2 separate regions of the Homo sapiens genome follow, and region 2 is linked to region 1. Evidence: fine-mapped expression QTL. A gene starts in region 1. The other region holds a variant in brackets. All regions are shown on one strand. Distances are between the middles of the regions.

Region 1 (11,973 bases):
GGATCTTGGCTCACTGCAACCTCCACCTCCCAGGTTCAAGTGATTCTCCTGCCTCAGCCTCCCGAGTAGCTGGGACTACCGGTGTGTGCCACCACGCCAGGCTAATTTTTTGTATTTTTAGTAGAGACAGGGTTTCACTGTGTTAGCCAGGATGGTCTCGATCTCCTGACTTCGTGATCCACCTGCCTCAGACTCCCAAAGTGCTGAGATTACAGGTGTGAGCCACTGTGCCTGGCAATGTCTAGTAGTTTTAATTTACATTAATTACTAGTGATTGAACATTTTTTTGTGTATCTTGGCCACTTGTTCTTTTCTCAGTCTTTTTTTTTTTTTTTTAGATAAGGTCTCACTCTGTTGTCCAGGCTGGTGTACAGTGGCTCAATTATGGCTCCCTGCAGCTTCAAACTCTTGAGCTCAAGTGATCTTCCCGCCTCAGCCTCCCAAGTACCTGGGACTATGACTGTGCACCACCATACCCAGCTAATTTTTTAAATTTTTATTTTAGTAGAGAGGAAGTCTTGCTGTGTTGCCCAGGCTGGTCTCAAACCCCTGAGCTCAAGTGATCCTTCCGCCTTGGCCTTCCAAAGTGCTGGGATTACAGGCATGAGGCACCACACCCAGCCTTCTTAACACACCATTTACTGACAGAATCCTTTTCCTCTGAAATGCTCTATTTATCAAAAATTAAATTTCTATGAATGGTTGGGGCTATTGTATTTTGTTCCATTGGCCAGACTGCCAATGTCTTTTCCTATTATATACTGTATTAATAAATTCTCCCTTGATTGCTCTAAAATTCATTGGCTTTTCTCACATATCAATTCTTTCAGGTGAACTAGAATTACTTTATCAAAGTTGCCAGAAATTCCATTGTAAAGATGTATAAATGAATTGGAGGCATTATTTATTTACTGAGACGGGGTCTCTTGTCGTCCAGGCTGGAGTGCATTGGCATGATCTCAGCTCACTGCAACCTCTGCCTCCCAGGCTCAGGCAATCCTCTCACCTCAGCCTCCTGAGTAGCTGGGACCACAGGTGCACTGTGCCACCACAAATACAAAAAACGTCTGTATTTTTTGTAGAGACAAGGTTTTGCCATGTTGCCCAGGCTGGTCTTGACCTTCTGAGCTCAAGTGATCCACCCACCTTGGCCTCCCAAAGTGCTGGGATTACAGGCGTGAGCCACCATGACGGGCCCGAAAACTCAATATTTTTTAATGTCAATTATGCCCCCTCGGCTGGGCACAGTGGCAGGAGGATTGCTTAAACCCAGGAGTTCAAGGCTGCAGTGAGTTATTGTACCACTGCAAGAGCAAGACCCTGTCTCTTAAAAACAAAAAAACAAGAGAACAAAAAATAGTTGGCTGGGCGTGGTGGCTCTTGCCTGTAATCCCAGCACTTTTGGAGGCCAAAGCAAGTGGATCACTTGAGATCAGGAGTTCAGGAGTTTGAGACCAGACTGACTAACATAGTAAAATCCCGTCTCCATTAAAAAAACAAAAATTGGCCGGGCGTGGTGGGTCACGCCTGTAATCCCAGCACTTTGGGAGGCTGAGGTGGGAAGATCACAAGGTCAGGAGATCGAGACCATCCTGGCTAACATGGTGAAACCCTGTCTCTACTAAAAATACAAAAAATTAGCCGGGCATGGTGGCGGGCACCTGTAGTCCCAGCTACTCGGGAGGCTGAGGCAGGAGAATGGCATGAACCCGGGAGGCGGAGTTTGCAGTGAGCCAAGATCATGCCACTGCACTCCAGCCTGGGTGACAGAGCAAGACTCTGTCTCAAACAAACAAACAAAAAAATTAGCCAGGAGTAGTGGCATTTGCCTGTAGTCCCAGCTACTAGGGAGGCTGAGGCAGAAAAATCGCTTGAACCTGGAAGGCAAAGGTTGCAGTAAGCCGAGAATGTTCCACTGCACTCCAGCCTGGGCGACAGAGTGAGACTCTGTCTCAAAAAAAAAACAACAACCAAAAATCCCAAAAAACCATGCCAGGCCTGAAGTCTCAATATTTTTATGAATAAATGTCAATTATGCCCCCTTGGCAGGATGCAGTGGCTCATACCTGTAATCCCAGCACTTTAGGTGGGCGGACTGCTTGAGCTCAGGAATTTAAGACCAGCCTGGGCAACACGTTGAAACCCTATCTCTACCAAAAATACAAAAATTAGCCGTGCAGGTGGCAGGCGCCTGTAGTGGTAATTCTACAGTAAACAGTATGGTGCTTCCTCAAAAAATTGAACATAGAATCATCCTATGATCTACCGATTCCATTCCTACATGTAGACCCTGTCTCTCAACAACAAAACCCAGAATACAAAAAACCCACTATCAAAAATAAGATATATTTTGGAGGTTGTAAACAGTTAGTCCTCTTAGTTGCAAGTGATAGAACCTCAATTTGTACTACCTTAGTAGGCACAAGGTGGAGGTGTTGAGATTTACTAGCTCATGGAATCCATGAAGAAATGAACAAACCATGGTAAGGGGAGGAATATGGAGCTTCAGGAACTACTGGAACCAGAGATTTGACAGCTTCCCAGACTCTTAGTCTCTCACCTCTGCTGCTTTCTGCACGTCGGCTTCTTTTTCACACAGGCGAGTTGGTTCCATATGGAACCAACTGACACGTGGCTGCTGACAGCTCGTATGTTTTACATTTTATGGCTTCCACACTGAAGGGGAATTTTCTTTCTCAGTTTCAGTTAAAAAAATTCTGGGTAAGGACTCTGGCCCATCTTGGCCCAGGACCAGTGGCCAGGGTATGAGGTCACTGAAGATAACAGTGTGCAATAGTCAGAAGTATTTACATAAACATGAAAAAGAAACAGAATGAGATCTGTAACACAGTATCAATTAGGTACATTTAAAACACATACATACATAAAACATTACATATTATTCAAAGATACATGTATATTCAAAGACATATATCAAACACATTAGAGTGAATACCTAAGGAGGGAGGAAAGGAACATTAGTGGGAACTGGAATGAAGAGAAAAGATAAAATGAGAAAGGGCTTGTTAATGACAGTGTGAATAAACGAGTATGACTGGCTCAATTCTCTGCACCTGAGGGGAAAATAGCAAAATAAAGGAGTGACACAGGAAAGAAAACAAAGAAAAGAAAAAAGTACTTTTGAGTGGGAGTAAGGGGCATTTTCCAAGTGAAAATAAAGGGGAGAATGCTGGGGAGATGATTCCATACATGTTCATTATAGGAACAGAAGAGACATATCCTGATAGTGGATTGAATGGGGGAGAGAAGTGTGAAGAATAAATCCTGGGCCAGGCCTGGTGGCTCACACCTGTAATCCCAACACTTTGGAAGGCCAAGGTGGGAAGATTGCCAGAGGCAAGGAGTTTGAGACCAGCCTGGGCAACACAGGGAAACCCTGCCTCTACAAATTATTATTATTATTATTATTTTGAGATGGAGTTTCGCTCTTGTTGCCCAGGCTGGAGTGCAATGGGGCAATCTCAGCTCACTGCAACCTCCGCCTCCCGGATTCAAGCGATTCTCCTGCCTCAGCCTCCCAAGTAGCTGGGATTACAGGCATGTAGCACCACACCTGGCTAATGTTTTGTATTTAGTAGGGACAGGGTTTCACCATGTTGGTCAGGCTGGTCTCGAACTCCTGACCTCAGATGATCCACCTGCCTCAGCCTCCCAAAGTGCTGGGATTACAGGTATGAGCCACCACACCCGGCCAATATTTTTATTTTTTTGAGATGGAGTCTCACTCTGTCACCAGGCTGGAGTGCAGTGGTGCGATCTTGGCTCACTGCAACCTCTGCCTCTTGGGTTCAAGTGATTCTCCTACCTCAGCCTCCCAAGTAGCTGAGATTACAGGAGCGTGCCACCATGCCCAGCTAATTGGCCAGGATAGTCTTGATCTCTTGACCTTGTGATCCACCCACCTCGGCCTCCCAAAGTACTGGGATTACAGGTGTGAGCCACCGTGCCCAGCCAAAAATTTTTCTTTAAAAAGAGTAACTCCTGGGTTTTGACTTAAATGGTGGTACAATTTGTTGAGATTTAAAACAGGAGAAGAAATAAGTATTTGACAGGAAAATCAGATTTGATTAGCTAAGTTTGAATTGTTTATGAAACATCCAAGAGGATGTCCCTTTTTTAAAAATTATTTTTTGCCAGAAATGTGTGTATATTAGTATCTGCTTTATTTCTGAAGAATGAGCTTTTCAATCTATTTAAAGTACAGCTCTTTTTCCCTTATTTCTGATTGTTTACTCTGCCATTTTCCTTTAATTGTCTTCTATATTTGTTGAATGCTTAGCTTACTAATTTTCACTTTAAAAAGAAAGCATATAAGGTTACTTATAGGATTTTTCCTCTGAGAAGTGCTTTAATATCATGGATTCCATTATGCAATATTTTCATTATTATAATTTCTAAATAATCCAAGATTTTAGTCTTGTTTTCTTTTTTGACCCATGAATTATTTAAAATTGGTGGTTTTTTTGTTGTTTTTTTTTTTTAAAAAGACATTTATTCAGTGTCACGATCAGACTATTACATTTAGCAATCAACAGCTTGGGTGCAAAAAAAAAAAATACATTAAAACCCTTTGTTGGAATGCTTTACACTTTCCACAGAACAGAAACTAAAACAACCTGTTATACAACTAGTCACAAATACAGTCTTCGAGTTTTTTGCCCATACACATGAGTATTTGTCTAAAACATATCTTCTTTGTAGCAGCTAGGCCCTGCCACCACTGTGCTTGGCTTAGTTCACAAATCTGTTGTAACCTGTAGCTTCCCTGTCACTTCGCTGGCTCTCCTCTCATGCTAAGCTTTGTTGCCTAATTAAAATCTTCCGCCACTGCCATAGCTACTGCTGCTACTGGAACCGCCATAGCCACCTTGGTTTCGTGGTTTGGTAAAGTATTGGCCTGCACCACCATAGGGGCCAGAGCTTCTGCCTCCAAAGTTTCCTCCCTTCATGGGTCCAAAAATTGAAGACTAATTGTTGTAATTGCCAAAATCATTGTAGCTTCCACCTCCAAAATTGCTTCCATCATTACCAAATCCATTATAGCCATCCCCACTGCACGATATCCACCACCACCACAGCTGCCACCAAAGCCACCATGACCACTGAAATTTCCTTCACAACCAAAGTTGTCATTCCTACCGAAACCACCTCCACGACCACCACCAAAGTTTCCAGAAGTACTTTGACCTCTTTGGCTGGATGAAGCACTCACCATCTCTTGCTTTGACAGGCCTTTCCTAATTTCACAGTTGTGGCCATTCACAGTATGGTATTTCTGAATGACAGTCTTATCCACGGAGTCATGATCATCAAAGGTTACAAAGGCAAAGCCCCTTTTCTTGCCACTGCCTTGGTCAGTCATGATTTCAATCACTTCAGTTTTTCCATACTGTTCAAAATAATCACTTAGGTGATATTCTTCAGTGTCTTCGTTAATGCCACCAACAAATATCTTTTCCATAGTTAAGTGGGCATCTGGTCTTTGAGAATCTTCTCTTGAGACAGCTCTCTTTGGTTCCACAACTCTTCCATCCACCTTGTGTGGCCTTGCATTCGTGGCTGCATCCACCTCCTCCTCAGTGGCATATGTGGCAAATCCAAAGCCCCTGGAGTGCTTGGTGTTTGGATCTCTCATTACCACACAGTCCGCGAGTGTTCCCCATTGCTCAGAATGGCTCCTCAGGCTCTCATTGGTTGTTTCAAAGCTCAGCCCTCCAATGAAGAGCTTCTTCAGCTGTACGAGCTCTTTAGGAGACTCTGACTTAGACTTGGCGGTGTCCATGGGTGGAAAGTGTTTGTTTTGTTTTATTTTTGAGACAGAGTCTCTATCTGTCACCCAGGCTGGAGTGCAGTGGCGTGATCTCGGCTCACTGCAGCCTCTACCTCCTTGGTTCAAGTGATTCTCCTGCCTCAGTCTCCCAAGTAGCTGGGATTACAGGCACCCACCACCACGCCCGGCTAGTTTTTGTATTTTTAGTAGAGACGGGGTTTCGCCATGTTGGCCAGGCTGGTCTCGAACTCCTGACCTCAAGTGATCTGCCCACCTTGGCCTCCCAAAGTGCTGGGATTACAGGCATGAGCCACGGGGCCTGGCCTAAAATTGTTGTTTTTAAAAAAATTCCAAATGGTTAGAATGTTTTGCTTCATTTGTGGCTATTCACTTCTAGTTTTATTACTTTGTGCTAAGTAAATATGACCTGTACAATTTTTTTTTTTGACGGAGTCTCACTCTGTCGCCCAGGCTGGAGTGCAGTGGAGCAATCTCGGCTCGCTGCAACCTCTGCCTCCCAGGTTCAAGCAGTTCTCCTGCCTGAGCGTCCCAAGTAGCTGGGACTACAGGTGCCCGCCACCACACCCAGCTAATTTTTTTGTATTTTAGTAGAGATGGGGTTTCATCTTGCCCAAGCTGGTTGGGAACTCCTGAGCTCAGGCAATCTGCCCACCTCGGCCTCCCAAAGTGCTGGGATTACAGGCGTGAGCCACCGCGCCCGGCCAACTTGTACAATTTTTACTTTTAGAAACTGAATTCAAGGCTGGGCGCGGTGGCTCACGCCTGTAATCCCAGCACTTTAGGAGGTTGAGGCGGGTGGATCACCTGAGGTCAGGAGTTCGAGACCAGACTGGTCAACATGGTGAAACCCCATCTCTACTAAAAATACAAAAAATTAGCTGGGCATGGTGGTGGGCGCCTGTAATACCAGCTACTCAGGAGGCTGAGGCAAGAGAATTGCTTGAAACCAGGAGGCAGGTTGCAGTGAGCCAAGATTGTGCCACTGCACTCCAGCCTGGGCAACAAGAGTGAAACTCCGTCTCAAAAAAAACGAAAAACAAAAAATCTCAGCAGCTTTCATTGTGATACTGACTTAAATATGGTTGTCTTTCTTGTCATTTCTTTTTACCTGGTATTTCATGAATTCTTTAAATCTGATAATTCAAAAATTTCCACCAACGTAGTAAATTTTCTTCTACTATTTGATTATTGCTCTTCTGCAGTCAGCTGTATTATCCCCTTCTGGAACTCGTATTTAATTATTAATTTTTTGTACCCCTTCTCCATGTCTCCTATCTTTGTCTCTCAGTTTTTATCTATTACCTTTTCCTTCTGAGTTCTGGTAAATTTTCTTGAACTGGTTTAACTTTTGGCATATCTAATCTGCAGTTCACTGACACTGTTGCATTAAATGGGTGGTGCCATTTGTCCTAAGAAAGTTTTCTTGTTTTCCATTATTTTTCCAGCTGAAAAAAGAAATCATGCAATGGCCTCTCAAATTTCAATATGAAACAGATTATTTTTTAACGCTTCTTCCTATTTCTCTCAAATCTGGTGGCAAAGGCTGTCTTCTGCTCTGACCACTCAAATGGTTCCTCTTCTGAACTGTTGGATCTTTTCACCCATCATCTACTGACTTTCTTCTTATGCTTAACCTTCCGGTGACAAAGTGTCACGTAAAAGGAACTGAAGGAGTTCTGTCAGAGGTTGTGGCAATCCCTTCGGCTCAGACTAAGGAATAATTGGTAACTATTCTGTGATGGGTGTGGGGTAAAAGCCTATGGGGCTGTGGAGGGGCAACAGGTGGAGGCAGGAGGCCTTGGGGAAGGGAGCTTCACCTCTGTACAGTTCTCCAAAAAAAGATTCAAGTACCAGCCTTCTGGTATAGTTCAATTTTAAAGATGGGAAATTAAAAAGTCAACCTGAGATCCACAGCAGTAATTTTTTTCAAGAATCCATAGTGACACAGAAATTCCCAAATTGACTTTTTTTTTTTTTTGAGGCGGAGTCTCGCTCTGTTGGAGACTCCCGGGCTGGAGTGCAGTGGCGCGATCTCGGCTCACTGCAGTCTCCGCCTCCCGGGTTCAAGCGATCCGCCCGTCTCAGCGTTCCGAGTCGCCGGGATTACAGGTCCCAAATGGACTTATATGCCTCCTGATGTACTTCCTTCCACACGATTCCAACTATATCGTATCTAGTTTTTAAAAGTCAGGGGGCGGCCGGGCGCGGTGGCTCACGCCTGTAATCCCAGCACTTTGGGAGGCCGACGCGGGTGGATCACCTGAGGTCAGGAGTTCGAGACCAGCCTAGTGAAACCCCGTCTCTACAAAAAATACAAAAATTAGCCGGGCTTGGTGGCGTGCACCTGTAATCCCAGCTACTAGGGAGGCTGAGGCAGGAGAATCGCTTGAATCCAGGAGGCAGAGGTTGCAGTGAGCCGAGACCGCGCCACTGCACTCCAGCCCGGGAGTCTCCAACAGAGCGAGACTCCAACTAAAAAAAAAAGGGAATAGTAACAACTACTCTTAGCAGATCTTCAAGGTCCCAAGTAATGGCCCGCGGCGCTAGGCCGGGCCTGTGGCGGGAGAGCCTGGCCTAAGGTGTCCAGAGGAGCCCAGGCTGAGGGGTGTCTCTGTCAACCCGAGTCCCAGACTAGCAGTGTCCTTGGTGTCCACGACAACAGCAACGGCAGCCACCGCCGCAAACGCCCGCCTGGCCTGGCACGGCCCGGCCTCGCCTCACCTCAGCTCACCGGCGCCGCGCCTCCAGCTCCAGCCTCCGCGCGCCTCCCCGGCCGCACCTCTGCGCACGCGCAGCGCCCGCCCGCCCCACCCAGGCTCTCGCTCCGGTCCCGCCCCTCTGGAACCGGCGGCGGGCGCTTTTCCTCCCAGCGCGGCCACCGTCGTTCGGAAAGGGAGGGCGGCAGGGGGCGGGGAAAGGCCGGGAGGTGGGCGAGCGCGCGCGCCGCCCGTCTGTGGTGGTTTCCTGGCTGCGCGCGGCGGTGGCGGAGCCGCTACGGCTGTAGCAGCAGCCGCGAAGATGGCGGAAGGGCTGGAGCGTGTGCGGATCTCCGCGTCGGAGCTGCGCGGGATCCTGGCTACTCTGGCCCCGCAGGCCGGGAGCAGAGGTGAGTCGCGCCGCCCAGCTCCTGGGCCGGGCCTGCCCGCCCCGCCTCCCTCTCCTCCTCCTCTGCCTCCTCCCCGCTCGGCCCTCGGCTCCGGAGCCCCCGCCCCTTCCCCCAGCAGTAGGCGCTGGGGCCGCGGCGGACCCTCGCTGCCCTACCTCTCTCGCGGGTTAGTGCGGGGTCGGGCTCGGCCAGTCCTGGCCAGCTCCGGGAGAGCCTGGCCCGAATTCCTGCCTCCACCCTCTTTCTCGCCGCGAAGGTGACTGTTCCTTTTGCCCCAGCCCTCTCAGACCCGCCCCGGATTCCCAGGCATCGGGAGACGCGGAAAGGAGTGGGGTCTGGTGGAGGCCCCGGGCGTATCGCTCTCCAGGCCGCCCTCCGCGGGCCTGCCCCGGCCACCGCTTTAACGTCGGAGAGAAGGAATTGGGGAGAAAGGTTTAAGAGCCTGCGACTTCGTTGCTGAACTTTTCCCCCCCAAGACAGGCTTCCGAAAGCTGCGCCACTGGAGGGATCCGGGACCTCAGACTACTCGGGTTTGGCCCTGGCATGTGTGGGAGCAGTTTTTATTAGAGAGAATGCTCAATTTGCAAGTTAATTTCAAGTCTCCAGCCACGTCAGGAAAGTAAGAAAGATTCTAAGTGTCTCACCTCTCCTGCGTTAGGCAATAGAGTTGTGTAGAATGGTAGCTGTGATAGGTGCCTTCTCTAGGTTTGCGGCCAGTCTGTGAAATTGGTTTTTGTTGATTAACATAATTGGATTATTAAGGCTATTTTCTCCCGCTGCTCTAGAAAGTAGTAGGAATAGCTTTCCCCATCCCCCCGCCCCCCACCAAGTTACAGACTGCCGAGGGTGAGCTATTCTTGGGTTAAACTGCTTTATCTTTGTGGATACTTCATGAACCTACCTTTTAAACTTATGAAAATAGTGAAGCACTATCCAAAACCTCAGTCTCTTTTCTTCCCCTTTTCCTTACACCTACAAACAGTAAATGTACTTGCTGGAGCATATGATTCCTGTTTTGGGCTTGTTTCCATTTATATTTAGAGAGCAATACTAGGATTAAAAACTTTTTTATTGTTGTTATTATTATTTTTTGAGACGGAGTCTAGCTCTGTCGCCCAGGCTGGAGTGCAGTGGCGCGATCTCTGCTCACTGCAACCTCCGCCTCCCGGGTTCACGCCATTCTCCTACCTCAGCCTCCCCAGTAGCTTGGACTGTAGGCGTGTGCCACCACGCCTGGCTAATTTTTTGTATTTTTGTAGTGACGGGGTTTCTCCGTGTTGGCCAGGATGGTCTGGACTCCTGTCCTCGTGATCCGCCCGCCTTGGCCTCCCAAAGTGCTGGGATTACAGGCGTGAGCCACCGTGCCCGGCCAATTTTTTTGAGGCAGGGTCTCACTCTGTCTTCCAGGCTGGAGTGCAGTGGAGGGATCTCAGCTCACTGTAGCCTCCCCCTCCTGTGCTCAAGTGATCCTCCCACCTCAGCCTTCCGAGTAGCTGGAATTACAGACCTGCACCACCACACCTGGCTATTTTTTGTATACGTTATAGAGACAGGGTGTTGCCATGTTGCCCAGGCTGATCTCGAACTCCTGGCCTCAAGCAGTCCTCCCGCCTCAGCCTCCCAAAGTGCTGGGATTATAGGCGTGAGCTACTGCACCTGGCCTATGCTAGGATTTTATATAGCATTCCATTTGTGTACTTGATAATATTCTCCCGAATTCTGTCACTTTTCCATTGTAATGTTTAGTGGTTACTTTTGATAACGGTAACAGATACTTTTTTAAAAAACCAGATACTTAAGTAAGTATCTGTCCGCTGGGCTGGAGTGCACTGGCGCGATCTCCGCGTACTGCAAGCTCCGCCTCCTGGGTTCACGCTATTCTCCTGCCTCAGCTTCCCGAGTAGCTGGGACTACAGGCGCCCACCACCACGCCCGGCTAATTTTTTGTATTTTTTGTTGAGACGGGGTTTCACCGTGTTAGCCAGGATGGTCTCGATCTCCTGACCTCGTGATCCACCCACCACGGCCTCCCAAAGTGCTGGGATTACAGGCGTGACCCACCGCGCCCGGCCGAGAGTGGTTTCTAAAGTCCTGTATTATTCTTAATTCTTGAGTTCCCAGTTGTTGGCATTTTGAGAGTATGTCACAATCTTTCCATCAGCATCCAGGGAAAGTTCCCTTATGGAACTTTTTTCTAATAATTCCATCATCACAGTAGCAGTTAGTGTCAGTATTCTAGTATGATAGTCTGAGCAGTATTTTGGTAACTCTGTGAGCTACTGTTAGTGAGTTGGTGAGGATGGGTGAAGTTGAAGAATGGGAAAAGAACTGCTTGCTGTTTAATTCACCAGCAGGTATGTTATTTGGTAATTGGTATCTTGAAGAAGAGAATCATCCTGGTCAAGTTTAAAGACTAAAGTTGCATTTTTTTTCTCCAGAGATGTCCAGGACTGATAATTGTTATAATACCCTCCCTCCTTTTTCTCCTTTTTTACTTCTTCCTCCTGCTGTTATGTTAAAAGAACTTAGCCACCCAGGAAAAAGTTAGAGGCGGAAGAAAAGGCTGAGGTGGATTCACAGGCTCTATAGATAGAGAACAGTGTAGTGCTGAAAAGGTTAGAGAGGTCTTTTGTTCTGACAATAATGAGGTAGTTTGGGATCTTGGATTTCTGAATATGACTTGGATGACACATAAGGAGATGGGTTTCCCCCATTTCACTTACCCAAGTGTAGGTAGCCCCAACACAGTTAGGTCCTTAGCCTTGTGAATTGTTGAACAAGTGTTGTAAACCCAGAATTTCTGCTTCTACAGAAATGTCCTTCTTTGCCTACCAGTATTAGCATTTGGATATGTAATTCTTGCTCGACTTTTTTTGTTACTTAACCAGAATGACAGTCTTTCCCCTATCTTCCTTCTTTATTCTTATCTTCTACCTTTCCCTCCCAAACTCTTTCCCCGACATAACAGAAAACATGAAGGAATTAAAGGAGGCCAGGCCGCGCAAAGATAACAGGCGTCCAGATCTGGAAATCTATAAGCCTGGCCTTTCTCGGC
Region 2 (11,973 bases), 39 kb before region 1:
CTAGGGTGCATTTTCTCTCAGCCTGCACTGGTGATACTGGTTGTTTGCTTCAACTTTGGAAGGCATTCAGCCCTGCTCAACCCCCAAAACAAGAAAGCAACATTCGCAACTGGACTCTGATTGGGAGGATAAAGAACTGTCCTGAGGCGGGTAGGTCACTTGAGGTCAGGAGTTTGAGACCAGCCTGGGCAACATGGCGAAACCCCGTCTCTACAAAAATACAAAAAAGTAGCCGAGCGTGGTGGTGCGTAGACCTGCAGACCCAGCTACTCAGGAGGCTGAAGTGAGAGATCGCCTGAACCCAGAACCTAGAACCAAGGAGGGGGAAATGAAATCCATGCTACACATCCCATTGTCCTTGTCCTGCTGGAGATGCAAGACAGGGTCCGCATGCACAGTGCTCATGGCGGCTACCCAGGGAACCAGGCCAGGGCCAGCCTCTCATGCAGTGGACACTGATGTGGGCACACTCAGCTGGCTGGGTAAGGAAGCCACAGTCTCCTAGAGTGTCTCTGGACACCATAAGCCCACAGTTCAATGACCAGAGCTTCGTCTGCATGAGGGCCAACTCCTCAATGCCGCCGCCCCTCTAGTCTCTACTCCTGGGTAGGCCTCACAGGCAGACCAATCCCTGGGCAGCACAGAGTCTGGAGCAAGACAGAGGTGGGTTCAAACACTAGCTCCTCTCCTTTTTTTTTTTTTGAGACTGAGTCTCGATCTATTGCCCAGGTCGGAGTGCAGTGACGTGATCTTGGCTTACTGCAATCTCCGCCTGCCAGGTTCAAGCAATTCTCCTGCCTCAGCCTCCCAAGTAGCTGGGATTACAGGCACCCACCATCATGGCCGGCTAATTTTTGTATTTTTAGTAGAGAAGGGGTTTTACCATGATGGCCAGGCTGGTCTCGAACTCCTGACCTCAAGTGATCCACCCTCCTCAGCCTCCCAAAGTGCTGGGATTACAGGCGTGAGCCACCACGCCCAGCCCACGGGCTCCTCTCCTTACTGGCTGTTTGACTTTGGTCAAGTCACTAAACCTCTCTGAGCTTCTGATGTAATTAGGGAGAAAATCAGGGTCTACCTCAATGGATGCTGGGTGATGAAAAGTAACAGCATATCCCAAGGTGTGAAAGGCTTCTCGGCCCCTGCCTACCACACCGAAGGGGACTGATGAATGCAGGTGCCTTCCCTCCCTGCACCTCATGCCCAGTCCCTGCCTTCCTCTCGTTCCTAGGGATGGTCTAGTTGGACTTGTCTCTGAGGTCACCTTCCACCGGCACGCTGGAGGCTGGAGTGCTGCCCCTGCACCATTTCTTATGTCTTGTTTTTTTGTTTTTTTTGAGACAGAGTCTCACTCTGTCGCCCAGGCTGGAGTACAGTGGTGCAGTGGTACGGTCTCGGCTCACTGCAACCTCCACCACCTGGGTTCAAGCGATTCTCCTGCCTCAGCCTCCCCAGCAGTTGGAATTATAGACGTGCGCCACCACACCCGGCACATTTTTGTATTTTTTGTAGAGACAGGGTTTCACTATATTGGCCAGGCTGGTCTAGAACTCCTGACCTCAGGTGATCCACCTGCCTTGGCCTCTCAAAGTGCTGCGATTACAGGTGTGAGCCACCGCACCCCACCTCCCTTGCACCTTTTCAAAGACGCTCCTCCAGCAAACTTCTCTTCTCTTTTTTATGCCTGCAATTTTTCCCTATTAGATACTTCCCATGTGAATATAAACATTCTAGGCCAAATGCAGTGGCTCACACCTGTAATCCCAGCACTTTGGGAGACCGAGGCAGGTGGATCACCTGAGGTCAGGAGTTTGAGACCAGTCTGGGCATCATGGTGAAATCCCATCTCTACTAAAATACAAAAATTAGGCCAGGCGTGGTGGCTTACGCCTGTAATCCCAGCACTTTGGGAGGCCGAGGTGGGCGGATCACGAGGTCAGGAGATTGAGACCATCCTGGCTAACACGGTGAAACCCCATGTCTACTAAAAATACAAAAAATTAGCCGAGCGTGGTGGTGGGCGCCTGTAGTCCCAGCTACTTGGGAGGCTGAGGCAGGAGAATGGTGTGAACCCGGGAGGCGGAGCTTGCAGTGAGCCAAGACCGCTCCATTGCACTCCAGCCTGGGCGACAGAGGGAGACTCCATCTCAAAAAAAAAAAACAAAACATTTCACTAGGGAAAATTCCAACCATATACAGAAGGAAAAGGGGACAGTATAACAGCTGCCCATGTACTCATTACCCAGCTTCAACAATGATCAAGTCACGACCATCTTGCTTCAGCTCCTCCGCCTGCAACCATTGTTTCCTACCACTGGATTATTCTGAAGCAAATTTTAGACATCATATATATTTATCTCTGAAAGAGGACTCTTAAAAACATGCACTTATACCTCTATTACACTGACAAAATTGGTAACAATTCCTTTATATTATCAAATTTCCTTATTGAGTTCCTGATGTTCAAATTTCTGATTCTCCAGATGCTCCAAACTTCCAGAAACACAGATTCCCAGATGGAATCCTGGGGAAGGCTCGAGGAGGCTTTATAGGAAAGGTTGTAAGGTCACTTTTTTTTTTTAGACCAAGTCTCGCTCTGTCGCCCAGGCTGGAGTGCAGCAGCACAATCTCGCTCACTGAAACCTCCATCTCTCAGGTTCAAGTGATTCTCCTGCCTCAGCCTCCCAAAGAGCTGGGATTACAGGCGTGCACCATGATGCCCAGCTAATTTTTGTATTTTTAGTACAGATGGGGCTTCGCCATTTTGGCCAGGCTGGTCTCGAACTCCTGACCTCAGGTGATCCACCCAGCTGAGCCTCCCAAAGTGCTGGGATTGCAGGCGTGAGCCACTGTGCCCGGCCTATGCTCCCTTTCAAAAACAAAGCAGATGTGGGGTGGGGTGGTGGCTCATGCCTGTAATCCCAGCACTTTGGGAGGCCGAGGCGGGTAGATCACTTGAGGTCAGGAGTTTGAGACCAGCCTGGGCAACATGGCGAAACCCCGTCTCTACAAAAATACAAAAAAGTAGCCGAGTGTGGTGGCGCGTAGACCTGTAGACCCAGCTACTCAGGAGGCTGAAGTGAGAGGATCGCCTGAACCCAGAAGGTCGAGGCTGAGTGAGCTATGATCACACCACTGCACTCCAGCGGGGAGACAGAGTGAGACTCCATCTCAAACAAAACGAAACAAAACAAAATAAAAACCAAAGTAGAATGCGATTGAGCACCTTCTGCATACTCAGATCCATGCTGTGTGTGTTGCCTGCATTGCTCTTCTGTTCCTTACATCTGCCTTCTGGGGTAGGCTCAGAGATGAGTAAGCACGGCTACACACTTCGTGGCACAGCCAGGATGTGAACCCAGGTCTGTGTGACCCCAAAGTCCCAGCTATGAACATCCCCATATGCCCTCCGCAATGCCCCAAGATAGAGTGAGGGGAGTCAGCTCCTTCAGAGCTCCCTCCTTCCTCTTAGATCATTTCTAGATGGAAGGCACGAGTTAGATAGCAAGAGAATGAGCTATTCATTCCCTGTGGGTGGGAAGGAGGAGGAACCCGCTCCTCCTTTTTGTGGCGATGGGGTCTTTTTTGCTCAGGCTGGTCTCGAACTCCTGCAAGGGATCCTCCCACCTCAGCCTCCAGGAATCCCTTTTACTGAAAAGAGACAGGCTGAAGACTGCCTGGAGTCCAAATCTCAGAATGTGCTGAAATATCGCTGGCTGCAATATCCCAGGGGAGAGGCAAGCCTTCCCTAGCACCGGCTTCTCTCCCAGCTTATTAGCATCTCCTTGCCATTCCCTGAAGGAGCTCACTGCAGGGCAGACCTTCCTGGCTAATGAAAGCTGCCTAGCAACAGGGAGCTGGTTAATAAAGCCTGATGTTATTCCCGGCTCCACAGATTCCACCCTTCTCGAATTACAGCTCATCCTCAGTCTGAAGCAACCCTCATGTTGACCCACTTGCACACAGCAGGGCAGGGAATCTGGTGACTGAGGAGGCAGGCTGGTGTCTGCCCCAATCCCTGGGGGGTGGGGAGGCTGAGGTCCTGGGAGATATGATTGGCCTGAGAACCTGCTCTGCCTGGCCAGAAGCCTCTCTGTGAGCCTCTGAAACCTGCTCTACCAGCCAAAGGTTAAAATGCAAACTCAGTGCCCAATCGGAATAGGGTAAATAAAACACTATGGACCTCGGGCGGTGGTATGCACCTGTAATCCCAGTTACTTGGGATGCCAAGGCAGGAGCATACCTGGAGCCCACGAGTTTGAGACCAATCTTGGCAACATAGCAAGACCTCATCTGGAAAAAAAAAAAAAGAAAAAACAAAAGCACCTTCCCCTCCAGGGGAGGGGGCGACAGGAGATACCAGCCTATACTTTAATTCAACAGTAAGTCTTTATATTAAAATGAAAAAAAATCCAAAAACCATATGATAGAGAAAAATGTAAACTTGATGTGATGTTTTAAGATAAAAAGGATAAAAGGATATATCAAAGACCTCTCCCCAACAGTGGTAGTTTTTGGATTTTGTTTAAAAAAAAAAAAAAAAAATGAGGCCGGGTGTGATGGTTCACACCTGTAATCCCAGCACTTTGGGAGGCCAAGGTGGGCAGATCACCTGAGGTCAGGAGTTCGAGACCAGCCTGGCCAACATGGTGAAACCCCTGTCTCTACTAAAAATACAAAAATTAGCTAGGTGTGGTGGCAGGCACCTGTAATCCCAGCTACTCAGGAGGCTGAGGCAGGAGAATTGCTTGAACCTGAGAGGCGGAGGTTGCAGTGAGCTGAGATAGCACCACAGAACTCCAGCCTGGGCAGCAGAGTGAGACTCCGTCTCTAAATAAATAAATAAATAAACAAACAAACGAGACAGGGTCTCTCTCTCTCTCTGTTGCCCAAGCTGGAGGGCAGTGGTGCAATCATAGCTCACTGCAGCCTCAACCTCCCGGGCTCAAGTGATCCTCCTACCTCAGCCTCTGGAGTAGCTGGGACTACAGGCGTGCACCACCATGCCCAGCGAGTTATTTATTTTTTTGTAGAGACTGCATCCTGTAATATTGCCCAGGCTGGTCTCAAGCTTCTGGTCTCAAGGGATCCTCCCGCCTCAGCCTCCCAGAGCACTGGGATTGCAGGTGTGAGTCACCATGCCTGGCCCCATAGTGGTAGTTTTGAGTCCATTCTCCTAGCGCCACCCTCCACTGGCACGGAGGTGGCAGTTACATAGGTTCTGATCCTCGGGCCTGGGAACAGCACACAGAGAACCCCACCCACCCCCCTGCTGCCGCCAGACTGGTTTGCCAGCGAAAACTTCCACACAAGGAAAGTTTCTACTCGCAGGGGCCTACTGCATGTCCAGCTTCTGGACAGACAGGTTTAGGAACAACCACAGCAAACACTCAACAAAGCAATTTTCTAGCCAGTCCTAGGAGTCTTGCCCCTCCCGTTGGGTAACAGGAATGGGGATCTGGCTGCAAACTTTCCTGGGTTTGCCCATGGTCAGGTCTTGACACAGTGATTCTTCAGGAAGGCTCTCCAGGAAGGCTCTGTGTTTTCTGTTTAAATGTCTGCATTCTAAGAAGCTCAGAGAAGCTTGTATTGCCTAGGCCTGGCTCTCCTCAGTCACCCCCAACCCTCCTCTGCCAAGAACCATGGGTCGGTGTGGAGTTGAGGGGCCCAGTACACAAGGGTCCCTTGAAACTAGGGACCGTGGTGTCGCTAGGCTGGTAATCCAGTCTCCACAGACTTCACTCTGCTCTTGACCTCTCAGCACGTTCTCTATACTCCCATTTCTCCCACAACAAAGCTGAATTCGGACGTGGCTAGGACAGTAGCAAGGCACAGTTTAAGTCTGGATCAACTTCAGACTAAAAATGCATTTCAGAGCATTTTTCCAGGGACTGAGGGAGACTGGCACATCAGAATCTCCAAAAAGGCAGAGAGGGGTGGTGTTTTTGATCCATACCTTGCTAGTCTTCCCTCCCCGTCCCCCGCAAGAGTCTCTCGTGATTCCACCATGCAATGCAAGGAAGCTGCTTTGCAGGCAGAGGAAAAAGGTTGATAATCAATGCTTTCAACGAGCCTCAGTTTCAGCCCAAATTGGGATTTAGCTCACCACTGAGCACCAATTTTGACAAAGCATAAGGATTTCTCTGTCTGTAGGCCCTGAGATACCCTGGCCTGACTTAGCCCGATACTGTTGGAACCTCTCCTGCTCCTGTTCTCCGTGACTGTACCGAACCCAAAACAGAGGCTGCACACTGGCAGAGGCTGGCAGATGTCTTTTGTGTGGCCCACACAATTTTTTTTTAAATGGGAATTAGCTGTCAGTATTTAAAAAGTAGGAATTTTTTTTTTTTTTTTTTTTTGAGACAGAGTCTCGCTCTGTCACCCAGGCTGGAGTGCAGTGGCGCGATCTTGGCTCACTGCAAGCTCCGCCTCCCGGGTTCACGCCATTCTCCTGCCTCAGCCTCCTGAGTAGCTGGGACTACAGGCGCCCGCCACCACGCCTGGCTAATTTTTTGTATTTTTAGTAGAGACGGGGTTTCACCGTGTTAGCCAGGATGGTCTCGATCTCCTGACCTCGTGATCCGCCCACCTCCACCTCCCAAAGTGCTGGGATTACAGGCGCCCGCCACCACGCCCTGCTAATTTTTGTATTTTTAGTAGAGACGGGGTTTCACCAAGTTGGCCAGGCTGGTCTCGAACTCCTGACCTCAGGTGATCCACCTGCCTCACCTCCCAAAGTGCTGGGATTACAGGCGTGAGCCACTGTGCCCGGCCGAGAATTCTAATACTCTTCAAAGTTGCTTATCATAATACTGGCATGCCTTTTTTTTTTCCAGAGCATAGGTTCTGCTGAGAAAAACTGAGGTCAGGCTGTGTCTTGTAAACCTAGGAATCATTATTCCACCATCTCAAAGAACTGGGGAAACCTTCCCAAACGGACATGGTATGAACTCAAGTCCTACAAACCTACCTTCAGCCTCAACAGCCAAAGGAGGAGAGACGAATATTCTTTGAGTGCTTACAATGCTACGAACGAATGAACATTTACACACATCATCTCAATCCCCACGAAAGTTCCTTGAGGTGGGAATCATCAGTCTGTTTTTAGAGGAGCAAACTGAGGGTGAGAGAAGTTAAGAAACTTGTCCAAGACGACTTAAAAGGCAGGACGCCAGGATTCAAACCCCAGTCTGTCACTCAGACTCTGCTCAGAGGCTGCCTCTCCGACTGCCCTCCCACATGTTTTTTCTTCCTAGCTCTTATCAC[A/G]TGCCAAGTTATTGGATGACATATTTACTTGCGCATTTGTTTCCTGTCTGTCTCCCCAACAGAATGTAAGCTCCTGCGGCAGAGACTCTGTCCATCTTGTCACTGCCATTTCCTTGCACGGTGAACGGTGTCTGGCACCTGGTGAGCCCTTGGTGGGGATCTGCTGCTGGATGAGGGGAAGGGCAGCTGTATCTGCTGTGCCACACTACCGTCCAAAGCATCCCTTCCCTTATCTGTTCTTTCATTATTTTCCCTCCACAAACCCCAACACCAATCTCAGAGGCCAAGGAATACAACACAGAGAAGGTGAATGGTTCCCTGTCCCTTCAGATGGGGGGTTGAGAGGAAGCTGAAATTCCTAGAAATCCAAGAAGAGTCTGTGCGTAGGGATAGGCTTGCTCCTACAAAGCAAAAGTCTTCAGGCTGAGGAGGCGGAAATGGTTTATAAGCGACTCTCTCCTTTCTGGGGCTGGAAGGCTTGGCCACACTGAGAAGGAGGTGATGAGAGAGTCCCTTCTGAGGCTGGAAGCCTTAGCCACCTCTCCTAGCCCACGCTCAGGCTCCTTTGCATCCAGTCAAGGGCTTGGGGTTAGGATCATGGAGCAACACGGGTGGGAAACAAAGGGAAAGTGGCACAGAGCATCCGAAAAGCACAAACCCCTCCCTGAAGTCAAAATCAAAATCAGTCAGAGCACTGGTTCCTGAACTCAAATGACCTAGGGCAGCGGCTCTCAAAGTGGGGTCCCCAGACCTACTAGAATCAGAAACTCCAGGGTTGGGACCCAGAAATCTGTGTTCTACCAAGCCCTTCAGGTGACTCTGATACATGCTAAAATGTGAGAATTACTATCCTGGGGAACAAAAAATACGCAGATTCTTGACCCCTGAAGAACCTGATTTAGTAGGTCTGCAAATGGGGCCAAAGAGGATTTCAAAAGCTTCCAGGTTGATTTGGACTTGCAGCCAGATTTGAGAGCTACTGCACCTGAGGACTCATCTTTTCCTGGCCCCAGGCCAGTGTCCTCGGCTCTAGACCGACCTCCCATCATCCTTCAGTCACTCACTCACCACATAAAGCAATGATGTGGCTGCTGTCTTCATGCACAAACTTCCTGGTGACAGCCTCCTCCATGATTTGCTTCACCTGCGGACACATGGACAGCATCACTGCTTTTATTATTTTCCCTTATCAAAGACCTCTGGGCAAATAAATAGTTTGGTTCCGCCCTTCTGGTCTGAAGGGCACTTTCAGACACTTGCAGAGATGACAGGGATGAAAGGTGTGGGGAAGCAAAGTTTCTTCAGCACAGTCTGATTCCAGTCTTTTGGAGGGGAAACCAGGGAAAGAGATGCCAAAAACCCATCAAACAATCAGTGCATGTTCCAGCCCAGGTGGAAGTGCCCTGCCTTGGAGAACAGGAATAGGATGCTGTTTGCTCATCTGTTCTCAGCTCACGAAGGGCTTCTGGGCAGATATACTGTCCTTTAGAGACAAACCATCTCGGTACAGCCTGCAGATAAACAACCTGCCCCTCCTCCTTTTCTCCCTATTCTCCAAGGTTAGGGGTAGGTCTCATACCTCAGGGACACCCTCTACATGCTCAAAAGCCCAGCCTTCTTTCCATCTAGGGTCTAGAACTCTGATGTTTGGGGTTCCCACCTGGATGTAAAAGTTCCCAAATACCTTGTAAGGTAAACAGTCATTTTTTTTTGAGATGGAGTCTCGCTCTGTTGCCCAGGCTGGAGTACAGTGGCGTGATCTCGGCTCACTGCAGCCTCTGCCTCCCGGGTTCAAGCGATTCTCCTGCCTCAGCCTCCCGAGTAGCTGGGACAACAGGTGCATGCCACCACGCCCTGCTAATTTTTGTATTTTTAGTAACGATGGGGTTTCACCATATTGGTCAGGCTGGTCTTGAACGCCTGACCTCAGGTGATCCACCCGCCCGGCCTCCCAAAGTGCTGGGATTACAGGCGTGAGCCACTGTGCTCAGTCATTTCTTTAAGAAAGCACTTAAAAAGAAATCTTTTTAACTGATGTGCAGTAAACATATAAAAGAACATATCACAATTACACAGCGTGGTGAATTTTCACAAACTGAACACTCCTGTGAAATCAGCAACTAGAGCAAGAAACAGAACATGTGACCAACACCCTCGCCTCATCACCTTCCCTTCTAGTCACTATTCCCCCTAAGGGTACCCACTCTCCTGATTCCAACACGACAGTTTTGTGGGTTTTTATACTTTTTTTGTTTGTTTGTTTCTGAAATGGAGTTTCGCTCTTTTGCCCAGGCTGGAGTGAAGTGGCGCGTTCTCAGCTCACTGCAACCTCCAACTCCCGGGTTCAAGAGATTCTCCTGCCTCAGCCTCCACAGTAGCCGGGATTACAGGCATGCACCACCACACCTGGCTTTTTTTTTTTTTTTTGTATTTTTAGTAGAGACGGGGTTTCTCCATGTTGGCCAGGCTGGTCTTGAACTCCTGACCTCGGTGATCCACCCGCGTTGGCCTCCCAAAGTGCTGGGATTACAGGTGTGAGCCGCCACCACACCCGGCCTGGGTTTTTATACTTTTTATAAGTGGAATCACTCAGCGTGTAGTGTTTTGTGACTAGTTTCTTTTGCTCACCTGTGTCATTCTGAAATTTGTTCATGTTGTGTATAGCTGTAGATTGTTCATTCTCCGTGCGCGTTGTGTACAGTTGTAGGTTGTTCACTCTCCGTGGTGTGAACGTACAAACACCCGGCGTTTGGGTGGTTTCCAGTTTGGGGCTGTTATGGATACTGCTGCTGTGAACATTGAGGACTGTCTTCTGGTGAACAAATGTTTGGGATTTATGTTTCTAGGCAAGGAATGTCTGATGCACACACTTTATTAGATATTGCCAAATTGTTCTCCAAAGTTGGTTATACCACTTTACACTCCCATGTATGAGGTTCTGGTGGTTCCCAACATTTAACCCAAACTCTGTTGATGTCCTGGGAGAACCTGCTAGCAGGCAGTCCTAGTACTGGAGATTATAGAGATTACCTAGTGCAGAATGTTACACATAAAGTGAGCCTTGGGTAGAGCTAGTCTTCCCCATTCTTTAGACAGGAATGTAATGTTCTGATGCTGTCCAGGTTCCCAAGACCCTTAGTCAAGACTGTATAGTTTGGAGGGTGGTAGAACCTCAAAAGCCTGGGGAGGCGGGAAGAAGGACCTGGAGGCCCCTCCCTGCCGGAAACTGCTAATGGTTAGTGCTCAGGTAAAAGGGGATCAGATCAATTAATGCAAATGCACTCTAAGCTGTTAAAAGCTTCCTAGACGGCTGGGCATGGTGGCTCACGCCTGTAATCCCAGCACTTTGGGAGGATCAGGCTGACCAAAATGGTGAAACCCCATTTCTACTAAAAATACAAAAATTAGCCAAGCATGGTGGTGGGTGCCAGTAATCCCAGCTACTCAAGAGGCTGAGGCAGAAGAATCACTTGAACCCGGAGGCAGAGGTTGCAGTGAGCTGAGATCGCACTCCAGCCTGGGCAACAAGAGTGAAACTCTATCTCAAAAAAACAAACAAACAAACAAAAAAAACTTCCTAGATTACCTCCCAAGGATGTTAGCATTCAACAGAGGATAATGTCACAGCTAAAGACCTGGAGGCATCTGAAGCAGGCTGATGGGGAGGATTTTTGGGTTGAAGGATCTGCAGATACCCCTAGAATTATACCAGTGGTCCTTTGTGAAAGGCCAGCCTGGTCTACCAATATTCCTGTTGTTTTTCCTTGCAGAAGGGACAGGATGTTTCTGTAGAAATTAAACACTGGGCCAGGCGTGGTGGCTCACGACTATAATCCCAGCACTTTGGGAGGCCAAGGTGGGCGGATCACGAGGTCAGGAGATCGAGACCATCCTGGCTAACATGGTGAAACCCCGTCTCTACTAAAAATACAAAAAATTAGCCGGGCGTGGTGGCAGGCGCCTGTAGTCCCAGCTACTCAGAAGGCTGAGGCAGGAGAAAGGCGTGAACCCGGGAGGCGGAGCTTGCAGTGAGCTGAGATGGCGCCACGGCACTCCAGCCTGGGCAACAGAGCGAGACTCCATCTCAAAAAAAAAAAAAGAAATCAAACACTGAAGGAGGAAAGGAGAAACATGAGTTCAGAGCAGGTCAACTTTTGTCAGGAATGATACGTAGCTGTGGCATATTCTGACATTTCTCACATTTTCTTAGGAATCACTTTTGGAGCAGTATAGTCCAGTTTCTAAGCACTGGTGGAAAAAGTCATCATCCTCTTAAAAAATATTTCCTGGCGGTCGCAGTGGCTCATGCCTGTAATCCCAGCACCTTGGGAGGCCAAGGCGAGGTCAGGAGATCGAGACTATCCTGGCCAACATGGTGAAACCCCATCTCTACTAAAATACGAAAAATTAGCTGGGTGTGGTGGCATGTGCCTGTAGTCCCAGCTACTTGGGAGGCTGAGGCAGGGAAATCGCTTGAACCCAGGAGCTGGAGGTTGCAGTGAGCTGAGATCGCACCACTGCACTCCAGCCTGGCGACAGAGCAAGACTCCGTCTCCAAAAAAAAAAAAAAGTATTTCCCATTATCTGTGACTAACCTCCAAAATTGAGCCATATCTATAATCCCAGCATATCCACCTCAAGTGTAGACACAAGTACTTTTCTATTTTGTTTACACTGTTCAAGTCTCTGTCACTAGACTGCTTCCTT

Alleles and levels. Alleles are on the strand shown, and positions count from the first base shown. SD is a standard deviation of normalised expression in the study named.
With allele A in place of G in region 2, the expression in sun-exposed skin of the gene that starts at base 8,766 in region 1 is lower (small effect, 0.14 SD a copy in GTEx).

What was found. PIP is the estimated chance that this variant, and not a neighbour inherited with it, causes the effect.
Region 2: its variant is fine-mapped to the expression of SMG6 in sun-exposed skin (GTEx, PIP 0.93).

Annotation. Positions count from the first base shown.
Region 1 is chr17:2,300,578-2,312,550 of GRCh38, reverse strand. SMG6 (SMG6 nonsense mediated mRNA decay factor) reads left to right here and starts at 8,766. Exons shown (of 19, transcript NM_017575.5): 1 at 8,766-8,918; 2 at 11,887-11,973. The coding sequence starts at 8,831. SRR (serine racemase) reads right to left here and starts at 8,601. Exons shown (of 8, transcript NM_021947.3): 1 at 8,534-8,601. It also overlaps the pseudogene HNRNPA1P16. RefSeq lists silencers at 8,517-8,736, 8,927-9,136 and enhancers at 8,638-9,364, 9,694-10,508.
Region 2 is chr17:2,339,982-2,351,954 of GRCh38, reverse strand. SGSM2 (small G protein signaling modulator 2) reads right to left here. Exons shown (of 24, transcript NM_014853.3): 2 at 8,335-8,410. Among named protein-coding and RNA genes, the nearest start is that of SGSM2, 8.5 kb to the right of the region's middle. RefSeq lists an enhancer at 3,312-4,249. The variant A/G (reference allele first, on the strand shown) is at 7,267.